2 linked regions of the Homo sapiens genome follow. The gene in region 1 interacts genetically with each later gene. Each region holds a gene or a part of one and is shown on either strand. Other genes may lie near its edges. The genes, in order: POLR2B and TCOF1.

Evidence for each region.
Region 2: changes in POLR2B (region 1) and TCOF1 together harm fitness more than expected from each alone (negative genetic interaction), as found in Homo sapiens cells (one large-scale study listed by BioGRID).

The regions. Positions count from the first base shown.
Region 1 is NC_000004.12:57,020,175-57,023,987, forward strand, and holds part of POLR2B (DNA-directed RNA polymerase II subunit RPB2), read left to right. Parts: intron 1-724; coding exon 725-821; intron 822-1,977; coding exon 1,978-2,072; intron 2,073-3,155; coding exon 3,156-3,406; intron 3,407-3,487; coding exon 3,488-3,577; intron 3,578-3,813. UniProt on the Homo sapiens protein: Catalytic core component of RNA polymerase II (Pol II), a DNA-dependent RNA polymerase which synthesizes mRNA precursors and many functional non-coding RNAs using the four ribonucleoside triphosphates as substrates.
Region 2 is NC_000005.10:150,370,976-150,374,788, forward strand, and holds part of TCOF1 (treacle protein), read left to right. Parts: intron 1-1,030; coding exon 1,031-1,261; intron 1,262-3,198; coding exon 3,199-3,411; intron 3,412-3,641; coding exon 3,642-3,813.

The sequences.
Region 1 (3,813 bases):
AGGCGCGTGCCACCACGCCCAGCTAGTTTTTGTATTTTTATTAGAGGTGGGGTTTCACCATGTTGGCCAGGATGGTCTCAATCGCTTGACCTTGTGATCCACCTGCCTCGGCCTCCCAAAGTGCTGGGATTACAGGCGTGAGCCACCATGCCCGACCTAAATATCAAGTTATTTTATGGGCTCATCAAACAAAGTGTTTTGGCAGCAGCAACTAAGAATTTCATTGTGGTGGGAAAGATATGATATTTTCTTGGTGGCAGAAGGAGAGGGGAATGGGGTAGTATCAGTTTCAAACCTAAAAGCTGGGGCTTGAGTCTATTGCTTATTAATTTTGGGATCATGGGTAGATTATTAATTCACTCCTCTGATTCATGAGAATAATAATGCTTATCTTGTTTATGGCACAGAGTTGCTGTGAGGATCAGGAAACTTGGTTTGGGGAGGCACTTCCTAAGTAGGAGGTGACTCATGTGTAATCACTTACTATAAGAATGGATACATTGGGAGTGACTAGTCCTAGGATTTGCTTGTGGGAGATATTTAGCCATCAGAGTAGTTGCCTCACAGATTGCTATTCCAGGAGGAATAGACTTTGGCAGTTACCATGATAACAAACACCCAAGCATTTATGGCAAATATGATGTAATTAAAGTTGATTTAAAGAAAGGGCAGTTTTTCTGTTTTCCAGGTGATGTTTTAATGTATGCTCTTAAATTCACTGCAGGCATCAACTCAATTGTGGCCATTGCATCATACACTGGATATAATCAGGAAGACTCTGTTATCATGAATCGTTCAGCTGTAGACCGCGGCTTCTTCAGGTTAGTATTTTGTAAATTTGTCAAAACACAGATACAGTGGAAACACTAATTTTTTATGCAAAAAAAGTTCTTAAAATACAGTTTAACTACGCCGCACTCCAGAAAGTGGAAGGACTGGTTGATGGTCACAAACAGCTGAAGATACTACTTGTATCTCTCAGGATTTTCAAATGCTAGTATTTTGAGCCTTTCTTTTGGTAAGGAAATATACAGTTGCATTTAGATAATATAGAAATGTCCAAAGAAGAAATAAAAATAACTTAGAATCCATAGATAACTATTGTTAAAATTATAGTGTGTTTTCTTTTCGCTCTTTTTTTCCATTATGTTTCAGTTTGATTGTCGACAAACAGACCTCAAATTCAAGGCATATAAAGATTGTTTTAAAAACTGGGAATTTAGTAGAGGGGATGGATTTTCCTTTGTCTGTGTAGTTTCAAAGGGTAGCACTAGAACTCAGAGGACAGATACTATGGCTTAATGTAAAAACTTTTTTTTTTTTTTTTTTTTTGAGACAGAGTCTTTCTGTTGCCAAGACTGGAATGCAGTGGTGCAATCTTGGCTCACTTGCAATCTCTGCCTCCCAGGTTTCAAGAGATTCTCCTACCTCAGCTTCCCAAGTACCTGGGATTACAGGCACGCACCACCATGCCAGAGTTTTTTTTTGTTGTTGTTTGGTATTTTTAGTAGAGACGGGGTTTCACCATGTTGGCCAGGCTGTCTCAAACTCCTGACTTCAGCTGATCCACCCATCTCGGCTTCCCAAAGTGCTAGGATTACAGGCGTGAGCCACCATGCTCAGCCAATGTTAAAACTTCTCACTGGAAGTGTTTGAGTAGAACCTAGGTGACCATCTTTCAGGGTTATTATGTAATGGATTCTTAAATGTGTCGGAGGTTGGATTCATTGACCCCTGGGTCTCTTCCATTTTGACATATAATACTAGGTGGTTAAGGTTATGGGTCAGATGCTACATATGTATAACTCATGTGATAACATTTAGAGTTTAACTCAGATCCTTAATGCAGTTACTCTTGTCCCAGATTCGTAGTTTAAATTGTCTCCCAAATTTCAAGTAAATGAGAAATTGTTGGTATAGTCTCAGCCCTTTTGTTAAAAGAAAATAGACTTTACCTTTAGAACCATGTGTTTTTAGGTCTGTTTTCTATCGCTCATACAAAGAACAGGAGTCTAAAAAAGGATTTGATCAAGAAGAAGTTTTTGAGAAGCCTACACGTGAAACATGCCAGGGTAAGTGACACTAACATTTAAATGATGGAATCCAAAGTTAACTTACTGTGGTTTTCCTAAGTGATTTTGATGGGTTGTGTCACCCTGTGCCTGCCCCTGTCCTCCTCTCCCTTTTTTTGTGCAATGAAAGTGTGTTTTCATGTTATTCTTAGAGTTCACATCTAAGAAAACATGTGTATTTGATAAAAGTCTTTGCACCTAGGAGTGAGCTTGCTATAGACCTTCCTTCCTGGTAGGTCCTGCATTGAGGAGGGAGTTTAGGAAATCAGAGAGGTCATGCAATTTCTGGGGACACACTTCACACCTGTCCCCCTTCCTTTCTAAATTATGGTGTGATCATAATATTTGTTCAGCCACATTGTTTGTAAACATTTAAAAAATAACCAGTGAGAAGAGGATACCTAGCATTTGTTGTTTCTTCTAGAAAACTCAAACTTACTTTCTAGTTATTTATTTTGACAGACACTTAAAACCTGCTTATGCAGTGGGATGGATGGGATGTTCCAGGGAAATGCAATATCTCTGCTACAGTGTTGACTCTGAATAGCATTGCATGAAGTAAAATGTATTTTGTTTCCTTTGCCATCTTCCTGTTACTCCCCTTCCATTGGGTGGCTCTGTGTAGTAGTGAATTGATGTCCAGTGGAGTTAAGATTGAGTTAAGATGAAATCCACAATTTCTGTGGGAGGATGTGTACAGAGGGCATCCATAGATACTCTCTTTTTAATTTAAAAAAATTTTTCTCCTGTACCCACTGATGGCAGAGATATTCTTTCTCTTGTAATATAGAAATCAGAAGATGACAAAAAACATATCCAAAGTCACTCGATAAATGTCTGTCATGGAAGAATCTGCTTTCCCAGTGCTGATTCCAATGTTCTTTTCCTTCATAGACTTTTTTTTTTGTTTTCTGTGTGGGCTGTAGTATTAGAGTTCAGAATAGTTTGTAATATTTGGAATAAGGGTGTGATTCATGGTATAGAGACTCCTGTGGCCTTCTCTCTGACTTGGAACTGATTCATGTATGTGGTTTTTAATCTTTGTTGGGGATTATGTGACATTCCGTGTCTATTTCCTCACAGGCATGAGGCATGCCATTTACGACAAGCTGGATGATGATGGTTTGATAGCTCCAGGGGTTCGTGTATCAGGAGATGATGTTATTATAGGCAAAACAGTCACCTTGCCTGAAAATGAAGATGAATTGGAGAGCACCAATAGACGCTATACCAAGAGAGACTGTAGCACTTTTCTCAGAACTAGCGAGACGGGCATTGTGGATCAGGTTATGGTAACTCTCAATCAGGAAGGATATAAATTTTGTAAAATAAGGGTGAGTACAACTTTGTTCATGTAGCTAGTTTTAGAAAGTAAACCAAATCCACTTAACTAACTTATTTTTATATGAATTTAGGTACGCTCTGTTAGGATTCCACAGATTGGAGACAAATTTGCTAGTCGACATGGTCAAAAGGGTACTTGTGGTATTCAGTATAGACAAGAGGTAGGTATCTTTGATCTCCCTCATGCCCAAACCAGTTTTGTTAAATATTTTTTTTTTAATCAAAATTTGCTTTAACTTAAGAGCTCAAAGATGATACAGGTTGAACTTTTTGATTTTATTGTTGAATAAGTATATGAACATACCATGTTTAAACAGAATTTGGGACATACAGTAATTCAGTTGGGAGAACTGAAATGTCAGTTCTAGTTTAGTATATGTATCTTTGAGTCCCTTTT
Region 2 (3,813 bases), on another chromosome or scaffold:
TGCATTTAATAAGATTGCTGGCTGCAGCCTGGGTTGGAGGGCAGTGCAGAATAAAAGCAGTAAGACCATGTAGGAGACTATTGGAGTAATACTGATACTGGCATAAGAGGCTGGGGGCTGGGAGACCAAGGTGTCCACAGTTGGAAAGATGTTTTCAAGGGAAAACCAGCACAAGTCAGGGATGAACTGATCTGGTGCCCAGGGAACTTCTCACTTTACTGTGCTGCCTGGCCCAGTAACCCTGTGAAGGTTGAAAGCTCACCCCCATCTACCCCAGGCCTTACCAAGGGCTGCCCTCCACCTTCCGTCCTCACCCTTGCGCCCTAGATACCACCAGCTGTAAGGACATCCCTGGCTTCTGTCACCCCAGGCCTTGCCAAAGGGAAGAAGACCACTCCCAGCCCTCCATAAACACACAACCTCAATGGGCTGAGGCTGTGCAGAGCTCCAGTAGCAGACGCCCCAGAAACCCAGGGCCGCAAGGGGTCTGATGGATCTCAGAGGTAGAAGTAGGGCACTGACTGCCTGGGAAATGTCTGAATTGTGGAAGTGTAGGAAAGAGCTCACAGAGGGAAGGAATTTGCCCAAGGTGTGGCAAGCCAGTGGCAGAGGTGGTGTTCACATCCTGAACTCCTGGCCCTCAGGAGGGCTGCTGTGATCAGATACTTGAGTTTAAGGGGCAGACAGGATGCGCTCTCCTGATTGAGATGCAAGCCCTTCTCTCAGGCCAAGCCCGGTGTGTGCCAGGTGGGAGATGAACGTAATGGTTTTGAGATCTGTTCCAAAGTCAGACAGTCCAGGGTTCCAGTGGGGCTCTGTCCCTTCATATTGATCATGAGTGATTTTACCTCTTTAAGCCTTGTGTACTTTTCTGGAAAATGGATCTAAAGCTAATAGCCGTCTCAGGGAGTTGCTTAAAAATCCAGTGACATTAGGAAAGAGCTTTATCAACTGCTGAAGCCCCTAATACAGAACCTTAGGGGGAAACAGTAATTATTATTCATTTTCTAATTCCATCCTCTTGTTCCAGGGGAAACCCTCAGTAAAACCAGCCCAGGTCAAAGCCTCATCAGTTTCTACTAAGGAGTCTCCAGCAAGAAAGGCGGCCCCAGCCCCTGGGAAGGTGGGGGATGTGACACCCCAGGTCAAAGGAGGGGCCCTGCCCCCAGCCAAGAGGGCCAAGAAGCCAGAAGAGGAGTCAGAGAGTAGTGAGGAGGGATCTGAAAGTGAGGAGGAGGCCCCTGCAGGGACACGAAGCCAGGTGAGGCCTGGAGGAGGGCTGCCCCTTGGAGGACCTGCGGGTCCCCCAGCAGCCTGAGCACTCTGCCATGAGCACCTCTGCCACTGGAGTTGGGGAGAGGGAGGACTATGGTGTGAAGTTGAAGAGCAAGAACAGCCTGCTTCCCACAGGGGAGTCTTGCACTCCACTTTGTCTGTGACCAACTTTACCTCAGTTTCTCTGCCTAGTAAATGGGCCGCTGTCCTCGTCCCAGCCAGTCCTGCTGTGAGGGACTTGAGAAGTTTTGATTGCCTAATCCTCTGACTTCTCAGGACAAACCAGACCCTGAGCAGGCAAACACTACGTTAGCTAAAGGGAATCCAGTTCCCTTCCCCATCTGCTGGGAGTGGGCAGGGCTGCAGCCCCAAGGCCCTGGGTGTATCCCAAGGGCAAGACAGGGGGGCTGGAAAGCAATGGAAGTCAGAGCAGGAAGGAGGAAGAGTGAGGGTCACCCACCCAGCCCCAGGCCTGGGGCAGGACAAGGCGGGGGCATGCAGTAGATAAGCAGATCCCCTGCGTTAGCTGCTGGTAAATGGTAAAGAGGAAGTGGGGGACATAGGAATGGCAACTTGAAGCAGAGTGCTCTGGGCTGGCCTTGGGAGAAGGCGTCTCAGTAAAGACCAGAAGGAGGAAGCACTCTTAGGAAGGTCATTCCAGGCAGGGGCTCAGCAAGTGTCAAGGCCCTGAGGTAGAAGTAGGACTACGAATTGTGACAAATTGTTGTTCCCACCCCATCTACAGGGAACTTCTACGCCTCGGCTGTCTATTTTGCAGTGTCTGGGGGCTACACAGTGTTGGATGGGCATCCACTTTGAGAAGGAACACAAATGTGAATTTTTTTTTTGAGACAGAGTCTTGCTCTGTTGCCCAAGCTGGAGTGCAGTAGCGGCAATCATAGCTCACTGCAGCCTCACTCCTGAGTAGCTAGGAATACAGGCACACACCACCACACCCAGCTTGTGTGTGTGTGTGTGTGTGTGTATAGACAGGGTTTCACTGTGTTTCACAAGCTGTGGACTCAAGCAGTCCTCCCACCTTGGCCTCCCAAAGTGCCGTGATTACAGATATGAGCCACCGCACCTGGCCATAAATGTGAACTTTTATGTAAAATCTGCTTTCTCCATGTTGGCTCAAAAATTTAAAAAGGAGCTAGCCAAGCAAGACCTGTGTGGAGCAGCCTGCACTTTCTGCATGAGAAGCTTCTTAGAAGATCAGAGCTGCTGTTTTCTAGGGTTGTTGGCCCAGGGCTGAACACCCAGGGCCTTCCAGGGAAGACAGGGCCTGCAGCCACCCTGCCAAAGCCCCAAGACAGTGCAGAGCCCCACCGAGGAGTTAGTGAAGAGGGGGCCAGGTGTGCAAACCTTGCCCCATGAGGCTGAGGGTGGGCTTCCAGGGGTCCTGCTGCTGTCCATGTGCAGAAAGTCCAGTGAGGGCCTCCCTCAGTCCCTTCCCCACTTTCAGACTGCCTCTTCATTCCTTCCCTTCCCTGGGCCTTTGCACACCCCCTCCCCACAGCCCAGTCTGATGATGCTCCCGATAAGCCAGTGCCTGTGCCTCCAGAGCTCTCTGGCCAGTGGGAGCCCAGCAGAGGACAGGCTCTAACTACCCAGTGTGCTGGGGCACCAGGGGGAACCATGTTAAGGAAGTGGTGTCTCTTAGGGAGCCAGAGACAGAGGAGGCAGTGGCTAAGTGAAATGGAACAGGGGGCATGGAGGCTCCAGGAGTGAGAGTGTGTGAAGCTGATCGATTTTTGAGAAACCAGGAGGCCAGTGTGGCCAAAGTATCAGTCAAGGTGGGGAGTGGGGAGGGAAGCAGGGGAGGTCTTAGGAGCCTCATTAAGGCCTCTGGACTTTATCCTAAAGGCATCACCAGAGAGTTTTCACAAGCAGGAGAGCAAGCTGCCCTTTCTTTTTCACCAGGTAAAGGCCTCTGAAAAAATTCTCCAGGTCAGAGCTGCCTCAGCCCCTGCCAAGGGGACCCCTGGGAAAGGGGCTACCCCAGCACCCCCTGGGAAGGCAGGGGCTGTAGCCTCCCAGACCAAGGCAGGGAAGCCAGAGGAGGACTCAGAGAGCAGCAGCGAGGAGTCATCTGACAGTGAGGAGGAGACGCCAGCTGCCAAGGCCCTGCTTCAGGTGAGGCCTGAGGAGGGAGACTCCATGCAGCCAGGCCCGTCCCCAGAAGGCCTTCTCAGGACTTGTTCTCCCACTCTGGGCCAGAGCCCCGGGCGTGCCTCAGACCCCAGCCCCTTACTCCCCTCTCACTGTGTGGCATCATTTGCCCTATCTGGTCTTCTGTACGTGGTGTCCTGTGTCTCCTCACACGTCCATCCTCTGGGCTGTCTCCCCTTGTCTTGTTTCTCCAGGCGAAGGCCTCAGGAAAAACCTCTCAGGTCGGAGCTGCCTCAGCCCCTGCCAAGGAGTCCCCCAGGAAAGGAGCTGCCCCAGCGCCCCCTGGGAAGACAGGGCCTGCAGTTGCCAAGGCCCAGGCGGGGAAGCGGGAGGAGGACTCGCAGAGCAGCAGCGAGGAATCGGACA